5 separate regions of the Homo sapiens genome follow, and all the other regions are reported to be linked to region 1. The links are microRNA targets in miRTarBase. Many come from high-throughput screens and were not tested one by one. Region 1 holds a microRNA gene; each other region holds the end of a gene's coding sequence.
What was found. The annotated mature microRNA hsa-miR-759 reads GCAGAGUGCAAACAAUUUUGAC and lies in region 1 at 2,690-2,711, shown strand. An mRNA with a match to its seed (bases 2 to 7 or 8) in the 3' UTR can be bound and repressed. Matches are read on the target gene's strand: a 7mer-m8 pairs with bases 2 to 8, a 7mer-A1 pairs with bases 2 to 7 and ends in A, and an 8mer does both.

Region 1 (4,065 bases):
GGTACAGAGATGGAGAGCAACCCTAAGCGACCCTGGTACTCTTTCCACTATAAGGAGTTGGGGATTTCCTCTGCAAATTTTTGATGAGTTGGTCTCATTTTAGAAATATTAAAATACTTATAAATGTGTAATACTGACACAGGTGCCAGTAAAAAAGAGGAATCAGCCGGGCGTGGTGGCTCATGCCTGTAATCCCAGCACTTTGGGAGGCTGACGCGGGTGGATCACCTGGGTTCAGGAGTTTGAGACCAGCCTGACCAATATGGCGAAATCCCATCTCTACTAAAAATACAAAAATTAGCTGGGCGTGGTGGTGGGCGCCTGTAATCCCAACTACTCGGGAGGCTGAGGCAGGAGAATCGCTTGAATCCGGGAGGTGGAGGTTGCAGTGAGCTGAGATTGCCCCATTGCACTCCAGCCTGGGCAACAGAGCAAGACTCCATCTCAAAAAAACAAAATAAAACAAAAAAAACATCCTCGGGGATTATGAAGACATGAAAAACGGAATTGGGGCTGGATAAACTTCCTTCAAGAGCTGGGTCCTTTGTGGCCAGGCGTGGTGGCTCATGCCTGTAATCCCAGCACTTTGGGAAGCCAAGGCGGGTGGATCACGAGGTCAGGAGATCGAGACCATCCTGGCTTACACGATGAAACCCTGTCTCTACTAAAAATCCAAAAAAAAAAAAAAAAAAAAAAAAAAAAAAATTAGCCAGGCATGGTGGCGGGCACCTATAGTCCCAGCTACTCAGGAGGCTGAGGCAGGAGAATGGCGTGAACCTGGGAGGTGGAGCTTTCAGTGAGCCGAGATCCTGCCACCACACTCCAGCCTGGGCGACAGAGCGAAACTCTGTCTGAAAAAAAAAAAAAGAGAGAGCTGGGACTTTGCAATCAGGCATGCATACCTGGTTTTCAGCCGTGTGAACCTGGATAGGTGACCTCATCTCCTGAAACCTCAGTTTCTGCATCTATAAAATTGGGGAAGTATCAGTTCCTTCTTTATAGGGTTGGAATAAGAATTGATGAGGTAATACATATAATGTGCTTAACACATTGTCTGGAACATAGTATTTAATTAATGCTAATTATGATTAACTTTTTAAAAAGTGGTTTAGAAAAGCTAATTAATGCCTCACTTAATTACAACCCTTAGACATTAAAAACATTTAAAAATGCCTCAGCATAGATATTCAGTGGGAAGACTTTTGTCTGTTACTTCTCAGTTAACCCTCCTGGCATTTAAATAGTGAGCGTGTGTTGAGGTGCAGGCATCCATTCTCATTTAACAAAGCCCTTTTGAATGGGTAGTTCCTTGAGGTGGCTCTAGGAGAAAGCCCTATCGTGTGTCTAAATGACCTACATTATTTGGAAAAACAAACAAAGCTGGATTGATCTGAGTTGATTGCTTTCAGAAACAACAAATTGGCTAGATTCAACGATTTCCTCCTTTCCTTCACCAGCCAATTTTTGGGTAGATATAGCTTCATTATAAAATCTGACCAAGCTTGACTCTATATAATTCAATCTCAAAGTATAAACAATCTGGAATGTTTTGTGGAAGACCTTGAATGATTTCTGAGCAGGAGATGGAAGCCTGAAGAATCAGAGAGTGAATGCATTCAGGTTTTCAGTGGCACGTGACCTTGATTAGCACACAGTAACAAACCAATTGGTGTCTCCTGAAACTGACCCCTCTCCCTTGGTTGATGAGTTTGATCCATGCTATTGTCTCTGGAAGGGTACTGGAAGAAACCTCAGGGATGAGAGGAACCTAACCTCTCATTCTGTAGATGAGGAAGCTGAGATCTAATGAGTTTGCATGACCAGCATCTATTACTCTACAATATTTTCCTCTTGGTTCCAACGCCATGCTCCATTTTCTTCAAGCAAGGGCTATTGGGGGAAATTTTCAATCATTTTCCAGTTTCCATGTTATTCACAATAAAACACAAGTTATCTTTATTAAAAATGTAAAAGTGTCAGCTTTTTAGATCTGGGTGTATCCATTTGTTTCCCTGGGAGACAGTGGGGAAGAGGCACAGTGCCTGGGGGTCGGGGCCTGGGAGGGTGGTGCCAATGGGGAGGGTGAAGAAGACCTTCACTGCCACCTTGTGGTCACCTGGGGCCAAACAGGGTCATTCCTTGGGAACCTCTCTCTGTCTAGCTTCTTTGGCTGCTTGCCTGAGATCTTTATCAGTGCAGTCAGCATTGCGTCAATGAAGCTTTTGTTATAATTTCTCTTCCATTGCATTTTCAGTTTCTTTAGCCCAGGGAAGGGGAAGTTGTTGAAAGCTAGCAAAATTCTGTATGTTGAAAAAACATCTGCAGGGAGGAAGAGGTCAGAATCCAGGAAAGGCTCTTAAGAAGAAATGTTTACGAGCTTTGCAAGATCCTTGTCTCATCTTATAGCATCTCTCCACAAGAGCAGAGATTATGGGACAAAAGTCAGGCCTGAGTTGGCACCTGTCATTATTATTACTTGGTCAATTGAGGAAGTTAGGATAGATGAGGATTCATTTATTATCTCATTTATTGGCCTTATTTGCAGTCCAATTTAGTTCTCACGTCACATTCTGATAGTCTCAGATTCAATAGCATCAGTTGAAATACTAACAATATTTTTCAGTGCAAAAGAATGACTTTCAAAGTATATATTATGGAAAGGATTATAATAAATTAAATGCCTAAACTGGCAGAGTGCAAACAATTTTGACTCAGATCTAAATGTTTGCACTGGCTGTTTAAACATTTAATTTGTTAGAATGGAAGTAGCGGCACAGAATAAGCATGTTAATTAAACTTGGGCTTTAGCAATGTGAGTCATCCCACGGACACAGAGCGTGACAAACCCGGATGGCAAAAGTCAATGTGCGTTGATTTCTCATTCTCCAAATGAACACTTAACATCTTTAAACCCTGCAGACATTAGTGGTTTTTAATGAATTGTTCTGTCTCTTTGAGGTGACTTTTAGATGATGCCATAGTACTTTTAGTCTGGGAAACAACTTTGCCAATTAAGTTGCAGGGAAGTTATCACCGCAGAAAATTGATTAAAATGATTATATGGCGAATCTGTTCCATGCTTTTACATTAAAAAATAGAAAAATGTAAAGAAGAGGTATAAAAACAAAACCTTGAAACACCAGTTTATCGAAAACAAAAAATCTCCATCATCACCATCATATTACCATCACCACTGCCACCACCGCCACCATCATCACATCTTTTGGGGCTATGGAATATCTAGGCCCAGATTTCCTGTCTGGCCCTGGTTCTACGTGGTAGAGTTATGGTAACATGATGCTGGTTAAGTCACTTGTCTCCTCTAAGCTTCAGGTTCCTCATTTGTAAAATGAGGGCCTTTTTATTGGTTAGGGTAAGGCTAAGCTGATGCAGCAAAGAGGCCCCCAAATAGCATGATTTACATCAGCTAATAGTTCATTGCTTCTTAGAAGTAACCCAGTTGTTTCAGGCTGGCAGGGGAGCACTTGGCTCCCTTACTCAAAAATCTTTGGTGACTCCTTACTGCCTGCAGAACTCAATTCAAGGTCCTTCACAACCTGACCTCAACCTACACTTCCAACTTAGTCACTCATAGCCTTTCTACTTCCATCTGTGTCTTTTCTGTCCTGTTCCCTCTGCCTAGAATTCTCTTTTCTCCTTCACCTATTGACATTGTATGCATTCTACATGGCCTAGCTCAGAGGCTGCCTCCTTCATGAAGCCTTGTAATTCCCTGCCTCTTGCCCCTTTTGATTACCTTTTATAACACTCATTATTTCTTCCTCTGCCTTCGCATATCTTTGCCTCCTTTATAGTATCAAATTCCATTTGCCTTATAATTAAATCAGTTATTTATGCAAATAGGCTTTATGTTTCTGGAGGCAACAGACTGCATATTATTTATCTTTGTTCCCCAACTTCTCTATCCTTCCTTGCCTTGCCCAATATCCAGCATTGTTGCTTGCCCAATAAATGTATGTTGAACTGAACGGAGTAAAAAAAGTTGTTACAGATAAAAAAAACTCAGTCATCAAAATAGCAACCATTTGTTAACTCAAGGGGCCA
Region 2 (4,065 bases), not on the chromosome of region 1:
TCCAGGATTTGTTTCCTTAGCCCTGTCTTTTCAATTCTTGTCATCTCGTGGTCCTATTTGCAGTGACAGCCAAGTGGCTTCTGTTTCTGTGCACAATTACCCAGACTCTATCCATCCATTTCTTTAAAAGTGGGGGACCAGGAGAGAATTTATTCTGTGGGGAAGTAAAGTTGTCAGGGACTTTGAAAAGAGAGAAGAGTATTTTGAAAGGCTGCTTGGTTTGTAAATAATTTTTCCTTTTCTGAATGTCATTTAGCTTGAACTTGAGAAGCAGAAATTGCAAGAAGAGCAAGAAAATGCCCCCGAGTTTGTGAAGGTGAAAGGCAATCTCAGGAGAACAGGCCAAGAAGTCGCCCAAGCCCAGGAGTCCTAGGCTGAGGCTGCACCAAGACCTCGTGTGTCACCCCACAGAGCTGTCTGTGGGTGCCTTCTCAATCTCAGGGCAAAAGCCCCTGGAGAATATTTCAGCCAGCAGAGAATTTTGACTTGCAGTAGGATTTGGTTTGATTTTCCTACGATCTGGGTGGATGCCTTGCCTGTGACAGTTGCAGTTCCTATTCGCCAAATGAAGGGCAGTGCCCCGCACGTAAGTTGGAATGATGGACCTGTGTTCAGAGACTTAACAGAACCAACAAGCAAAACAAGTGAGAACAGGAAAAAGGAAGAGGACACTGGAATCAATTCTTGAGAGTTGCACTACTTGGTTTTTCTTCCATTCCAAGTTTCGTGGGACCCAGAGCCTTTTTTCTTTTAAAAGCTAAAAAACAAGTGTTTAATTCCTCTTTTTGTTATCTGTTAGATAATTGAGATCACCTAGAAATGCGTTTAATCTGTTCACTCACTGTAAATTTTGAGGACCCAGAATTGTCTTGTTTAATTTATACTTTCACCCCTGTTGCAGTTAACACCAGAGAAGGAACGTGAATGTCGAGCACAGCCACTACCCTTGTTGGCACTTAATTTAGAAATAGGGTGAGAAGTTTAAAAGCCCATCTTGATTTTATTTTCATTCCTTTTGGTTCTCTGTGTAATAATAGCAGGCTACATAGTGACATTCCAGTTCCAAGAAGGTACATCCTGTCCATTCATTAATTGCTTTGATTACTAGGAGGGTTTCTGTTCAGTTTTGTTTTTAAATGTCTTGCTGATCTAGTTCTTTCAGATGGAATAACCTTCCAGTCCCTTAGAGAGTGGAACTAGTCCATATAACCCAGCTTCAGTAGCAAAAGTAGAAGCCGCCACATCTTTTCATTTCTCCAAGAGGAGAGTGGGGAAGGTTCCCATGACCAGCTGGGCAGTCAGGATTTCTCTAGGCATTCTAATGTGAAATAAGTGTAGACTGCTGTCAAGGAGGCTTCATCAGAAGATGTATAGCATTTGAATGTCTAATGATAATGCATATCATTAGAATCCAAGCTTTGAAAATTTCTGATTAATGCTCATGTATTTCTTTATCTTTGTTTTTCCTTGTGAAGAAAGACTTTCACCACTGTCTGAGTGATGATGCTGTTGATAAGGATGATGTCGATGACTACTATATTGCATCTCTCAGGAACAGCTGATGGGAAGGGAGGGGCTGCTGAGTTCCCTTGTTCTAGCTAGCAGCACGCTCCTCAGAGAGGGGGCCGAGTTACAGACAGCAGCCGCATTCTCATGCAAAATTAGTTTTAAACTGCTAGTGTGGGCATCGGTACCTTTTGCCTGGGTGATACCGAAGAATTGTTGAGGATTTAGTATGCTCCGTAGAGACAGTTCAGCCAGTCATTTCTGCATTGGAGAGACTTCTCATACTTTCTTTGAAGACTCATAGAAAGCTGGATCTAGAGCTTTTGAATCCTTAATTAGCACAGTAGAAATTAGCTTTCTATGGGAATGCTTTAGTGTTAGCAGTTGACAATTAGGCCCATATTCAATCTGAATGGGAACAAAAGTAAATGCAATGATAATATACTGCTAGTTAGAGAAACATGTTAGTTGATTATACCTGAAATGGATTATTTATCTCATCAGCAAGTATTATTTGAATAAAATGAGAAATGCTTAAGAAAAATTGTTGCTCTACAGTAATTTGGTTTCGAAGAATGGAATGGTAACTATTTTTTCCCATCGTTCTTTTGAGAGAAGGAAGTGTGATGACTGATGATCTTGAAAAGCCCATTTCTGATTGCACGTTGACTGGAATTCTTTCTTTGTGTCTGTGGACTAGCGATGCTGTTTGTAAAATGAAGATTCGGGACTGGCTCATATCTTTTTATCTAACTAGATGTCAGATCTTGAAATCTGTATTCTCGAAGCAATTCTGCCACTTGATCGTATTCACAGGGGCCCTGGTAGGCTCCTTTAGAAGGACCATTTCTGTTCCTAGAGCTTAACTAGAATTCATTCTTCACTGAAAAAAAAAAAAGTTACTTAAGAAAGCATTTCTTTCCTAATCTCACTCAAATCTGCAGAATTATTTGTAATTAGTAATACAAAATCTGGCCAAAAGGAGACTTGTAAATAGCGTAAAGTGGTGTCTTATGCTAAACGGTGGAATGTATAGGCAGAGAAGCTCTTTGAAGTTGTCAGATGAGCTGGGCTCACAAGCCTGATTCAAACAGGCTGTCGGTCTCCTCTCACCCCTTAATACTGTGCAGCCCAAACTCCTAGGACTCTTGAACATCTGAGCAGTTTTGTGCTTTGAGCCACTTTTTGACAAAAATGGCTCCATTTTTCCACAGCGTGGTTTTCTTAAAATAGTTTAATGTTTTATAGTCTCATAGTAGTAGTGTTGCTTTCTAAGCTATAACAGTCGACTTTATTCTTCTACTCTGAAAAATCTTGACTTGTTTGAGTGTATATAATATATATAAAGGGAGCCTTAATGGATTGGTTTTCATAATTTAATATTTTTTGTATTTGCTCTTGTATAATTGTTTTTAACGGAAAGTATTAAAGAATTGAGGGTGGAATTCTTAGAACCAAAGTTATTCTTAATAAAAATCACCACATGCTTGGACCATGCAACCATGTTTGTCTGATCTGTTGAAGGTGTGCATCTGGAACAGAACGGGGCTGGGTTCATTTCAAAGGTGAGAGTTGGTTCCAGGGTCTCCCTTTTGATGACTGGTCCTCATTGACAACCTTGCCCCCAAATCACTTATGTCCTATTGCCTTGTGGCAGTCAAGCTGACAGTTTGTCATATCAAACAGAGTCATCTCAGGTATTTATGGCACTGTAAATTACACATTGCAGTAGGCCATATGGCCCTTCAGCAGCAGCCATCAGTCAGTCCTCAGCTCAAAGTATTCTGCATTTTAGATAGCTTGGTAGGACAGTGGGAGACATGTTTTGGGAAGGGCCATTGTTCAGTGCGTTTGACCCCAGTACATACGGCATGTCTGAAGTGTGATTATGAGGTTTTTTTTGCTTATTCAAGTAAATTAATGTTATTCCTCAAAGAAGTTACTTTGGAAAGGTATACGCCTGATTGCATTATACTACTGGTATACTTTGGAGGTTCAAGTCTCTTTATAATTATGCCTTTATTTTTCAACTACAAATTATTACTCAGTTTGATCACCCAACTTCTAGTGTCTTTGGACTTTTTTAAAATATTATATCTACTCAGGAGAGTAAAAATTTACTATCTCTAAGGTTATACCATGAACTCTAAAGCCAGTGCAGAAGATAGATTCCAAAAATCATTTGAGGAGTAGCTGCATCCTTGGAATAACTAGGCAGTTTGTCCCGGTGACTGTGTTGAGGCTGTCAATCCATTTAATTCGACCACTTCCCCAATCTCTCTCTCTTTCTCTCTCTCTCTCTCTCTGTGTGTGTGTGTGTGTGTGTGTGTGTGTGTGTGTGTGTGTGTTTTACAGTAGTGGTAATAGATTTGAAAGAAGACAGGGCAATTAAAGTGTTTAGTAAGATTTAAAATACTGTAGGACAGCTAAAAGAAGTTTTAAAATAATACTACCCGGCATACATTTCCTAGTATAATAAGAGATGAAGTATTTTACTTCCAGGGTCTTCGGATAAATAAAATCTTTATGAGCTAGCCTAACAATCACAGTTTCTACTTC
Region 3 (4,065 bases), not on the chromosome of region 1:
TGGGCATTGGGAATAAACCCTTCCTGGACATCAAAGCCCTTGGGGAGCGGACGCTGAGTGCCCTGCTCACTGGAAGAGGTGAGGGCCAGGGTGCTGGGGGGTGGCCCCCAGGAGTGAAGACCTTGACAATGAGGATACAAAGGGGAGGTATGGTGGAAAGTCAGGAAAGGCATCTCGTCCCCAAATCAGTGGGACTGGCTGGGAGGCCCTCTGTGAGACTGAGGGTCATTCCAGGGAGCCAAGAGGGCTTTCCCACACCAGCACCCCACCCCCCACTCCCCACTCTCTGCAGCCGCCCGCACCCGGGCCTCCGTGGCCGTGTCATCCTTTGAGCATGCCGGCCCCTCCCTTCCCGGCCTTTCGCCGGGAGCCTGCTCCCTGCCTGCCCGCGTCGAGGAGGAGGCCTGGGATCTGGACGTCAAGCAAATTTCCCTGGGTGAGGCACCTCTCAAGGGGTGGCTCCCAACAGCTCGGTCATGGTGGTGATGTTCAGGCTGCTTGCTGCTGAGCAATTCCTTTTTCTAGCCAAGAAGCCCAGTTGCCATGACAACTATGTACAGCTTCCCCACCGCTAAAAGAGCCTTCCATCTGGTTGCTAGGGTGATGCTTACAACAGCCTGTTGCTAAGAAGCACTTCCTCTGTACCTCTCTCTCTAGCTCTTCTTGGGTTTCTATGGAAACTGCCTCAGCTTCCTGTTGTACCCTCCTGGTTCACCACGGCAATCCTTATAGTTTCCTGTCGCTTCTTCCCTGGTTGCTCTAATGATGCTGCTGACAATTTCCTGCCTCTTGGTAGGGGGTTCCCTTGCAACTGGATCGCTATGGTGACTCACAGCTTCCTGTTGCTATGGAGCTTTTTCTTCCCTGATGGAGCAGCTTGGTTGCTTAAGGTAATCTGGAGGGATTCTGTACTCTGCTCTCACCCTAGCTTCCCCTTCAGCCCCAGAAACACTTGACTCTTCTGGAGATGTGTCCCCAGGACCAAGAAACAGCCCCAGCCTGCAACCCCCCCACCCTGGGAGCAGCACTCCCACCCTGGCCAGTCGAGGGATCTTAGGGCTATCCCGACAGGTAAGTTCCTACAACGAGGCTGGGAACAATGTGATCTCTTTGGCTGCTTTCTGGATGGGCTTTTCTGATCATTCAACCCCAGGGGGGTTGGGGGAAAACTGTGAACTTGTGCTCCCAGCTGAGGCTACAGTCTGGATTTATTATCTTGTCTACCTTTCTCCTCTCCCCGGGACCTGGCTAAGAGGCATCAAGGTCATAGGTTAAAAGGAATCTTAAATAAGGAGTATAGTGCTGGGGTGGATGGAAAGGGGAGAATGCCAATGGCCTGGCTTGGACTTGGGTTAAAATGGCAAAACTCAGGCCAGGTAAGGTGGCTCATACCTGTAATCCCAGACTTTCAGAGGCTGAGGTGGGAGGATCACTTGAGCCCAGGAATTCAAGACCAGCCTGGGCAACATAGTGAGACTCCATCTCTACAAAAAAAAAAAAATTAAATTAGCCGGACTTTTGAGGGGTGCGCACCTATAGTCCCAGCTACTCGAGAGGCTGAAGCAGGAGGATCTCTTGAGCCCAGGAGGTTGAGACTTCAGTGAGCCATGTTTGTGCCACTGCACTCCAACCTGGGCAACAGTGAGCACCTGTCTCTAAAAAAATAAAAGTAAATAGCAAAATTCAAGGATTTTGGGTAGGAAAGAGAGGTGAATTGACAGGCTTGTGGGGAGGAATGGAGGAAAAGAGAGAGAAAGACAAGAAATATGTCCCTAAATTCACTGTAGCTTCTCTCCCCCCAGAGTCATGCTCGAGCCCTGAGTGACCCCACCACGCCTCTGTGACCTGGGTGAGTCAGCATCCCCAATTTCTACCACATCCAGCACTCCTACCATCTTGCATGTACCTTCCTTCCTGTCCCCGGCTACTTGGGAGTCAGCTTCTTCCCTCTCCCAACTCATCTCCCTCTTCTCTCCTGGCTTCTAGAGAAGATCCAGAACTTGCGTGCAGCTTCTCCTCTCAGCACACTTTGGGCTGGGATGGCAGTGGGGCATAATGGAGCCCTGGGCGATCGCTGAATTTCTTCCCTCTGCTTCCTGGACACAGAGGAGGTCTAACGACCAGAGTATTGCCCTGCCACCACTATCTCTAGTCTCCCTAGCTTGGTGCCTTCTCCTGCAGGAGTCAGAGCAGCCACATTGCTTGCCTTCATACCCTGGAGGTGGGGAAGTTATCCCTCTTCCGGTGCTTTCCCATCCTGGGCCACTGTATCCAGGACATCACTCCCATGCCAGCCCTCCCTGGCAGCCCATGTTCTCCTCTTTTCTCACCCCCTGACTTTCCCTGAGAAGAATCATCTCTGCCAGGTCAACTGGAGTCCCTGGTGACTCCATTCTGAGGTGTCACAAGCAATGAAGCTATGCAAACAATAGGAGGGTGTGACAGGGGAACCGTAGACTTTATATATGTAATTACTGTTATTATAATACTATTGTTATATTAAATGTATTTACTCACACTTTGCCTCTAAGGAGCTAGAGTAGTCCTCTGGATTAAGGTGATAAATAACTTGAGCACTTTCCCTCAACCAGCCCTTAACTAGAACACAGAAAATAAAACCAAGACTGGAAGGTCCCCTCTACCCCTCCCAGGCCCAGAGCTAGCTGACTGTGTATGAGCCTGGGAGAATGTGTCTCCTCCACAGTGGCTCCCAGAGGTTCCACACACTCTCTGAAGCTCCTTCTCCCACACTGCACCTACTCCTTGAGGCTGAACTGGTCACAGACAAACTGGGATCCAGCACAGTCCAGCAGTTCTCAAAATGAGGTCCTCAGGCCACAGTGCGTGAGAACTTGCTTGGCTGTTTGTTAAATGCTAATTCTTGGGCCCCATCAGAGCTACTGCATCGAAACCTGGGGGTAAAACCCAATATTCTGCATTTCTTATCAAACTCTTTGGGTGATAACTAAGTGTCTGAAGAGGTGACTATTTCCTGACAGAAGGACCCAAAGAGGGAAGCAGGACATAGGTAGGCAGACAGACACAGGGCCCTGTGCCTCAAGACACCTGTTTATTGGGGACACGACTCTGCAATAGGGATGACAGGAATCGTACCAAAAATAGCGACGTCTACAGGGCCCCTGATGGGGCTAGAAGGGTACAGTGCCCCCCACCCTCACCCCTTGTACAAAAATAAACTCTCACGCCTATGGACCAGCAAAGACTGGCAGAGTGGCTCCTCAACAGGGACACAAACCTTCTCTGCCAGCCCAGGGACCCCGTTCTTTGACCCTCACCTCTGCCACTTCTAAGGCACTGTGACTCCCTTGGGCTGGGTGGGTACCGCCAGCCCACCCTCCTACGCCCGCCGCGCCTTCCACCTCTGGTCCGCCTGGGGCTGGGATATGGGTCCCACGCTGCCCCCTGCTGGCTTCTCTACCCAACTACCTCTAGCGCTCCCCCGCTCCGGCGGGGTAAGCTCACTAAGCTAATCGCCCCTGAGGGCCCACTACCGTTCTTGCCCCCCCAGCCCTGCCTCTCCGGGTCTGGACAGCCCGGAGCCCTCCTCCCCTTCCTGCGAAGGACTGGGAGGGGTCTCTCCTGATGGTACTCGGGCATAGGGCGGGGACGCGTCAGCCTGGGGTGGCCGGCGGCCCCTAGCCCGGCGGCTGTGGTGCACTTGAAGGTGCAAGGCCATGAGCTCTGGGGCTCCAGTGGCGAACGGGCAGAAGAGGCAGCGGTGGAGGGCACCCCCAGGCCCGGCCTCGCCTCCCGGCCCTGCCCGCAAGGACAGGTCCAGGGGTTCGGCCTCACCGCCTCGCCCGTTGCGCAGGGTCCTCCCAGGGCTGGCGGGCTTCCGACGGGACCCCGGCCCAGCACCGCTAGAAGGAGGCCGGGGACTTGAGGCGCCCTCCACCCAGGTCGCAGGCTGCGGAGACGGCTTGGCTCCAGATTGCGGGGCCGAACCCCGCTGGGAAGGAGGCGGTGGCTCCGGGGGTGGCCCGGGGCCGGCCCCGCTCCTCTGCTCCCGGTGGTGGCGCTGTAGGTGATACTTGAGCGAGCCGG
Region 4 (4,065 bases), not on the chromosome of region 1:
TATTGTTAGTAGAGACTGGGTTTCCCCGTGTTTGTCAGGTTGGTCTTGAACTCCTGACCTCAGATGATCCACCTGCTTTGGCCTCCCAAAGTGCTGGGATTACAGGCATGAGCCACTGTGCCTGGCTGCAATCACTTAGTGTTTTTTTTTTTTCCTCTGCAGACAAAAAAATAAAGTTATCCAAAATTCAACATAAGAAAACTGTAATCACCAAGAGGAGCCAGTTACATTGCAGATAACAGTGCCTATCACCTTCACCTCTGTCAGAGGCCCTCAGAATTTCCAAAGTGTTGGAAGTGGAAGAAGGCAGGTTTGAAGTTTTAGGTTGGGTTATTAGCAAACCAGATCCCCATTTCTTGGCTGGGCATGGTGGTTCACGCCTGTAATCTCAGCACTTTGGGAGGCCGAGGCAGGTGTATCACTTGAGGTCGGGAGTTCGAGACCAGCCTGGCCAACATGGTGAAACCCCATCTCTACTAATAATACAAAAAATTAGCTGAGCGTGGTGGCAGGCACCTGTAATCCCAGCTACTCAGGAGGCTGAGACAGGAGAATCCTTTGAACCTGGGAAGTGGAGGTTGCAGTGAGCCGAGATCGTGCCACTGGACTCCAGCCTGGGCGACAGAGCAAGACTTCGCCTCAAACAAAACAAAACAACCAGATCGCCATTTCTCAATGACTTATGGCCCTTGGAATGCAAGTGGCAGGACCTTTTGGGCCTCCAGTGAGGGACAGCAAACCACACTTATCCTCAAACTTCACAGTAAGCCCACAGCAGCCCTGCCCAGGGAGAGGGCCTGTCAGCCGGGTACCCTGTGTCCAGGGTTTCATTGAAGAACTGTCTACAATCACCATAGCACCTGGCCTTAAATAATGGATTTGGAGACGGCTTCTGGGTGGGATGCATATTACAGGGGTACCCCTTTTAAAAATTAGGAATTACTCCTATGAAGTGAGGTATGTTAGAAACTGTTAAGAAAAAGTTACCTCAAACATTCACAGCACTAAACGAATAGAACAAGGTCAGAAAGCGAGGTTTTCTTATTTTTACTGGTTTATAATAATCTTAAAAACCCCATCACACCCATAAACCACCACAGGTGAGGTGAGAGAGATGGAGAATGAATGCTACAGTATGTGGATAGAATGGGGAATCCAGGTATTCCCTAGGGTAGTGTAGGATGGAGACAGGGAGTGTGGAGAGGAGGCCCTGGCTTGGACCCTTATTGCTGGCTGGGGGTTGGCTGGCAGAGGGGAGAGGGACTCAGGCTGAACTCCGAAAGAAGGAACATCTCACACCAAAGGCGAGGGCAGTTGGGGGCAGGGGGATCACAGTACATTTTCCATGCAGACTAAGGGTGGGAGTGAGAGCTTCAGAGGCTTGCACCCCTACACAGGAAGAGATGGGTTTGAGGTTGTTTGACTTAAAGCCCCCAAGTTGGTGTCTGGTCCAGTTTCCTAAAATAGCAGCTCACCTTTCAGGGAGAGGTATTGGGGAGGAAAAAAAAATACAGCAAGAATATCTGCTTTGGAGATCAAGCAAGGGGTAGGGGGAAGACAGTGGTGCTCTTTAAATCTGACTCAGAAAAGCAGGAACTGGAAGAGGGCCCTGGGTGAGATGGCGGCCAACACCTTCGGAGAAGGCATTGAGTCAGAAGCTACAGGTGCTCCTGGGGGATCAGGACAGGGAGGTACCAGTGTTCACAGACGGCAGGAAAACAATTGGGAACAATAAATTAGGACTTCATGTTGCTATCATTTGGCATAACACAATCAGGCTTTTTTTTTTTTCTTTTTCCTTTTAAATATAAGGCAACTTGCCAACACATAACTTAAAACTGGTCTTCAGTCACATTGCTTCAGATCACTAGAGAATTTCTGGCTAACGAACAGTAGTGGATAGTGAACAAAATGCAAAACCTTAAATAAGAACCATCAGCTGACATTCCCCAGAGACAAGAGGAAAGGTAAGGGCTTATTTCATCTGTAAAAAATAAAAAAGCCCAATTCTGCATCTTTAACAGAATGGTGCAAAAATTTGTAACAAAACAGTCTAAGTTTAAAATTACAGAAAAGTGTTTCTAGCCAACTAATTGTCGCTTGGGATGAGACGTGCTGAGCATGGAGTGGATGAAGGTATGCTCTAAGAATGGACAGAGGGCAGGAGGGGCTTGTTTCCAATGTAGGCCCAGCTCCAGGTGTTAGAACCATGCTCATTTGGTAAAGGAAGTACTCAAAGAGCTTAAGGCTTTGTGTTTGTTTTTTTTTCCTTCATTAAACTGAGGGGCTGCACTAGAGGGTGAATGTACCTGTGGGGCCACTCACACACAATGCTACTCAAACCCACACTACATTCATACAGAAACGTAACGTTTAAAACTTACAGTGTAGAGCAATATTCTTAGCCAGTGTAGAGAGAACCAAATGCATTTTTTTTTTTTTGGTGTTTTTAATCCCAAACTCCAATGTGATCATTCCTTACCTACCTAATTCCTCAAGTAAGGTAGATTTTGTTTTTGTTGAGGGGGAAAGGATAGGGGCTGTGGGGAGGTGAGTTAGGGGACAGGCAACAGTGAGAAAGGGATCTTGGGTATGCTCAAAGGTCACTGTATTTTTCTAGGTTTGGAAAGGGGAGTCTGGAACCAAGATGCCAATACAAAGACTTTTTCCCCCCATATCTCAAGAAATGGTCAAATACTTCCAAGATGCCCTTGAGATCAAGTGTGGCAAGGGCAAGTGCAGTGGCTGTGGGATCAATATAGACACAAAACAAAGCCTTGAGGAATGGAAAGGAACTTGAAGGATATGAAGACTGGGTCAGCTTTGATTTGAGATCCTTCGATGAGTAAGTAATTAGCTTTCAGAGCACCTGGGAAATCTTGCTTCTTAGTCCTGGAGGGAGGGGAAGGGGGGTAGCAACAGGTAGAGGTCTGGATTAGGGGCCTGAGCACCTATACTACCTCAACTAGGGCATTCCGTCAGCCCACACCTCAGTCGTCCTAAGGGAAACAGGAAGAGATTCAAGAAAAGATGGGTGGGAGCTGGCTGGAAATGGCCAAGGTGGAGAGACTAGCTGACAGGCAGTCAGTGGAGAGAAAAGCCTGGGCTTAGGGTTAGGTTCTAACATAAAACCAAAAGTTGCTGGAGGGGAGGACGAGAGGACCCCTTCTGTCCCCACTTAGATCCCACCAAATTCCCTTTCTTAGACATCTAAGAATGATCACACTGGAGCAGTGAAACTTTGAAACTATCCAGTTACTTAAAAGACTAAACCTAGGAGGGTGATGTATGATGTGTTGCACGTGGAGGGCAGCAGGGCTACCTATCTATACCCTGGGTGCTGAATATGAAGACTTCGACTCTCTGTGGGATCGGGGGCTCGGTTGCCAGGGGCTCGGTGGGCCTTGCTCAGCATGGCCAGGCTCTGTTCTCGGAAGCAGGCCTGTTGGAAATCCCCACTTAGGTAATCCACTGTTTGCATCAAGCTGTTCTGGCTTGCCACTGGACCGCCCCCGGTCCCTGCTCGGTAGTGGGCCCCGGGAGCTGCCGCACAGTCGAGGGGTGCACCTGTGGGCTGCCCACCGTGGAACGGCATGGCAAGGTCCTGAGACCCCGAGCTGTCGCTATTGGGAGTGGGCAGAATGTTGTTCCACAGGGGTTGGAAGTAGTGACCATTGGGGTAGGCCAATGGGGCTGCCATGCCGTTGACTGGTGGGGATGGGGTCGGCTTTTCCAGGGGTGGCTTCAGATGGAAGGACTGCGCCAGGCAGAGTTCCTGCGGGTAGGCAGGGGCCTTGCCCACAAAGCCAGGCCCTGCCAACTCGCGTCCTGCCGCATGCTTGCCTGTCAGGCCAGGGGCTGGCGTCCCACTAGCCTCGCTGCACATCTGCTGTAGGTGGGCCAGCTGGTGCTGGTTCCAGGTGACTGGCTTGAGGTCGCTAGGGTAGCCAGTGGGGACGCGAGAGATGCCTGTGGGCAGGTTGACAGGACCTGCAGCAGGCAACGCGGCGGTGGCCGCGTGGGTGTGCTCCATGGGATTGACCACACATGAAGGCATTGGTGTGG
Region 5 (4,065 bases), not on the chromosome of region 1:
GGCAATTTGGAAGGTTTATTTAGGTTGTCAGAAGACTAGTGTTGAGGGTGATGGTTTGTGGGGATTTAAAAAATCCTCAGACTATTTGAAATTAGGGTAGTAACAAGTCCCAGGATATATGTATGAGTTTAACATCTATGTAGAGATTAAAATGTAGAAGCATGTCTAATCAACTTTTTTTGGCTGTATAATGTCCTATAACTTAGCTGTTAACTGCTTAACTCACTGCTGAGTACATATTGAACGTGCAATATATATTTTATTTCTGGTTGTCTTTATGGCACATTTTGTTGGGAGGCAGGTGTTTCATTTGCATTTGGTTGTATGTGTGTTCTCTTGTTCATACAAGGGTCTTACAAGACTAAATGTTATTTAATGTGAGAATTTTGAACTTTCATCAGTACTCATAGGGCCTTTCATTTTGTAGACATCTTCATTTGATTGTACACCATCTCCCAGCAAGACACCAGTTGAAAACCCCTTGAATATTATGTTGAACATTGTCAAAAACGAATTGCAGGAACCCTGTGACAGTCCCAAAGTTAAGGAAGAACGAATTGATACACCACCAGCTTGTACAGAGGAAAGCATAGCAACACCCTCTGAAATTAAAACAGAAAATGACACAGTCGAGTCAGTTTAAATAAAATGAGAAAGGTATGTTTTTCTTTTTTAAAAAAGCTGCTGTTGGATCTAGAAGGTGAAGAATTTTTTTATGTATATATAGACATATCTATATAAATTGTCTGGCTGAGGCAGGGCCTTCAGCTATCATTTGGTTAATAAATACATTTTAGTATTTGCATTTCCTACTGCCTGCAGAGTTTCAGGTGCTTGTTGTGTGAAAGTTCTGTAGATGTGTGCAAATTTAACGAAATGAAATTGTATGTGTAAAAATGTACGATTTTTCACTGTGCAACTGTAAATTATAAATAAAAAATATTTTTGCTATTCATGGAGTGTAATATTTATGCACACCATCAAATAGTTTCTGTACTTTTTATTGGGTAAAAATGGAATTGAACAGCAACCTCAACATAAGATTTTTTTTCTAGTAGCCTCCCACTGATTAAAGAAGCAAGTTTGAGGTTTCATCCTTCAAAAGGGGGTTCCGAGAGAGCACCGTAGGGCTTTTCTCAAATAGAAAAGCCAGATTTTGAAAAAATTTTAAAGATAAAATAGGACATATTTTGCAGATATATATATATATATACACAAACACATCTCCAGGTATAGAGAACCATCCAGATGTTCACTTTTGAAAATATCTAATGATGCAAAGTTTTATTCTTGAACTTGGACACTGATGCCATCAAACAATTAACAAATATATTTAAGTACTAAAGGTGATTTTTTTTTTAAAGACTTTTTCAAATTGTCAAATGATTTAATGCAGATGAACATATTTCTATTTTAAGTAACGGGAATCTGTAAGAATGTTTGCTTGAGATATGGTTAACTTTTTTCTTTTGTTGGTTTTGACTTAGATGGACACCATGAGATGTTAATATTCATACATGTAATAAATAGAATGATGAAGAAACTTTGTTTGTACTTCTTTATTTCTTGAAAAGCTTTAGAATGTGACTTTCTTGTTGTCTTTCATCTGTTTTTTGAAACATGAACATGGTACTTGCTATGAGCCAGGCACTCTGAGACAGGTTAGTCTTTTCTGCCATTTATTGGAGATAGGCATATAAAACACTGAGTTTTATTGAGCACATAGTATGTGGCAGGCACTAGCACTTTCTACATGTATTTTCTCTGGTATTCACATCTAATAACTACATGGTAGATGGTGTCCCCACTTTACAGATGAAATTAAGCCACTCACTTTAAAATTTTTATAAGAATTTGAACGTGGCTTTGTTTCCTCTAATTCCATACAATTTCTGCAATTTTAAAAGATACCCCCAAATTGATTGTTAGGATAGAAATAAGCACACCAAACTACTGGAAGGTGGCTAAGGAAGATTCTACAAAAGTGGTGACATTTGAGTCTTGGAGGATAACCAGGAGTGGAGTCCATACTGATGGGAAGGGTATCTTTGGAAAATGAACAGCAAATGTAAAGGCTTAAAATACTTTTGTGTTTTCAAAAATTGACTTCTTATGGTTAAAACTCAGTAGTTTTGAATAGATTATGATGAGCCATTAATTTTTTTAGTAGAAATGGAGTCTCACTACGTAGTCCAGGCTGGTTTCGAATTCCTGGGCTCAAGTGATCCTACTGCCTTGGCCTCCCAGAGTGCTGGGATTACAGGCATGAGCCACGTGCCCAGCCTTTATTTTTAAGTAGTGAAGAGCCTTCTTGGTCATGCTAAGGAATTTTTATTAAACTGATGACCAGAGCAGCCACTAGAAATTTTAAACAGGGTGACATCCTATCTGCATTTAAGCTTTTTTATTTTTTTAAGAATCAAGTGAATACAATTTTAGAGATTGCTAAATCCAGAGAGGTCCAGTGGGAAAACTGGTAGCCATTGGATTTGAGTTGTAAACACGTAACAGCTGAACTTACGTATATGAACACTGCCATAGGAACTGAGGTCTGTGAATCCAAAAATGTAGGCAAAACTTCCTGTTGAACATTTTTCTGGGGAAACCACCATAGCTTTTATCAAATGCTTAAAGGTATGGAACATTCTAAAAGGAAGGTGATATTCAAACCTAAAAGTGTATCAACGGTATCCACATGGAGAAGAGGGTCAAGGATGGGGGAACAAAGACTGGTAGGTGGGAAGGTCAAAAAGAAAATGGGAAAACCAGCAATGGGAAAATTTTTTTTTTTCTTTTTTTGAGACAGTCTTGCTATGTTGCTCAGGCTGGATCAGTGCAGTAGCACAATCTCGGCTCAGTGCAGTGGCACAATCTCGGCTCACTGCAACCTCTGCCTCCTGGGTTCAAGTGATTCTCCTGTCTCAGCCTCCCAAGTAGCTGGGATTACAGGTGCCCGCCACCACGCCTGGCTAATTTTTATATTTTGAGTAGAGGCGGGGTTTCACCACGTTGGCCAGGCTGGTCTCGAACTCCTGACCTTAAGTGATCTGCCCGTCTTGGCCTCCCAGAGTGCTGGGATTACAGGTGTGCGCAGGAAGAAAATTTCAATGGACGAGGTAGTCAACAAAATGAAGTCAAGAAAATATGTAAGACTCAGAAATACTCTAACTGTTGACCTAAGAACAGCTGAGTATGGGTGCCAACACCTGGTGCAATGGGTAGTGTGGATGAGAGGTAACAAAATATTAAAAGCTATTTTTTTAAATGAAGTTTAACTCCAGAGATTGAATTGTAGTTAGACAAATAGGAGAGGCATTAGCATGTTAAGAGGAGCTCAGTGGAGAAATGGGTTGAAGATGGAGATGACCGGTATACCAGTCTCAAGGTTGTAACAAGATAGTATCAACAATAGCACAGGAGGGGCGGGGCACAGTGGCTCATGCCTGTAATTCCAGCACTTTGGGAGGATGAAGTGGGTAGATTGCTTGAGTGTAGGAGTTCAAGACCAGCCTGGGCAACATGGTGAAACTCCGTCGCTACCAAATATATGAAAAACCAGAGGGACACTGTCTGCCAAAAAAAATAAAAGCACAGGAAGGATTTAGCTTTGGAATGGAGGTGGGCCAGTGTTCTCCAAGATGGCCACTAGTATTTACAGTTGGGTTTGAGTTCAATTCTTATTTTCTCTTTGAGGTAGAAGGCCAGATGTAAGGCAGTGATCCAGATCTGCCCCATATTTGGCTGTGCATTAGAATTATAGTGAATTTAAAACAAATTTTAATACTAAATTTAGAGATGGGGCCTTACCAGGTTGTCCAGGCTGGCCTCGAACTCCTGGGATCAAGCCAGTCTCCCACCTCAGCCTCCCAAGTAACTAGATTACAGGTGCACACCACTACACCTGGCTTAGAATTAGTGAATATTAAGAGATTCCTAATCTCTGGAGAGTCTCATTTAGTTGATTCGCATTCAGGGGCACTTCTAGTATTCAAGCTCCATAGTTTTTTCTAATGAACAGCCAGATCTGGTAAATAATTCAGAAATCAACATCAACAGCATCCCCAA

Region 2: miRTarBase lists FAM107B as a target of hsa-miR-759. Seed matches in the 3' UTR shown: 7mer-A1 at 2,808-2,814.
Region 3: miRTarBase lists ZNF219 as a target of hsa-miR-759. Seed matches in the 3' UTR shown: 7mer-m8 at 3,228-3,234.
Region 4: the mRNA of FAM222B is a reported target of hsa-miR-759. The part of its 3' UTR that is shown has no 7-base or 8-base seed match.
Region 5: the mRNA of PCF11 is a reported target of hsa-miR-759. The part of its 3' UTR that is shown has no 7-base or 8-base seed match.

Annotation. Positions count from the first base shown.
Region 1 is chr13:52,807,384-52,811,448 of GRCh38, forward strand. It overlaps MIR759 (microRNA 759), which reads left to right and starts at 2,667; the gene lies at 2,667-2,757.
Region 2 is chr10:14,517,498-14,521,562 of GRCh38, reverse strand. It overlaps FAM107B (family with sequence similarity 107 member B), which reads left to right. Exons shown (of 5, transcript NM_031453.4): 5 at 257-3,006. The coding sequence ends at 373. Among named protein-coding and RNA genes, the nearest start is that of MIR1265, 83 kb to the right of the region's middle. RefSeq lists an enhancer at 1,410-1,925.
Region 3 is chr14:21,087,028-21,091,092 of GRCh38, forward strand. It overlaps ZNF219 (zinc finger protein 219), which reads right to left. Exons shown (of 5, transcript NM_016423.3): 5 at 3,050-4,065. The coding sequence ends at 3,509. It overlaps ARHGEF40 (Rho guanine nucleotide exchange factor 40), which reads left to right. Exons shown (of 24, transcript NM_018071.5): 20 at 1-78; 21 at 293-436; 22 at 941-1,071; 23 at 1,803-1,849; 24 at 1,987-3,221. The coding sequence ends at 1,844. Among named protein-coding and RNA genes, the nearest start is that of ZNF219, 9.6 kb to the right of the region's middle. RefSeq lists enhancers at 1-302, 303-845, 598-747, 3,252-4,065.
Region 4 is chr17:28,754,948-28,759,012 of GRCh38, forward strand. FAM222B (family with sequence similarity 222 member B) reads right to left here. Exons shown (of 3, transcript NM_001077498.3): 3 at 1,033-4,065. The coding sequence ends at 3,323. Among named protein-coding and RNA genes, the nearest start is that of TRAF4, 13 kb to the left of the region's middle.
Region 5 is chr11:83,184,252-83,188,316 of GRCh38, forward strand. PCF11 (PCF11 cleavage and polyadenylation factor subunit) reads left to right here. Exons shown (of 16, transcript NM_001346413.3): 16 at 428-1,543. The coding sequence ends at 643. ANKRD42-DT (ANKRD42 divergent transcript) reads right to left here. Exons shown (of 3, transcript NR_149009.1): 3 at 240-602. PCF11-AS1 (PCF11 antisense RNA 1) reads right to left here and starts at 3,233. Exons shown (of 1, transcript NR_133914.1): 1 at 1,270-3,233.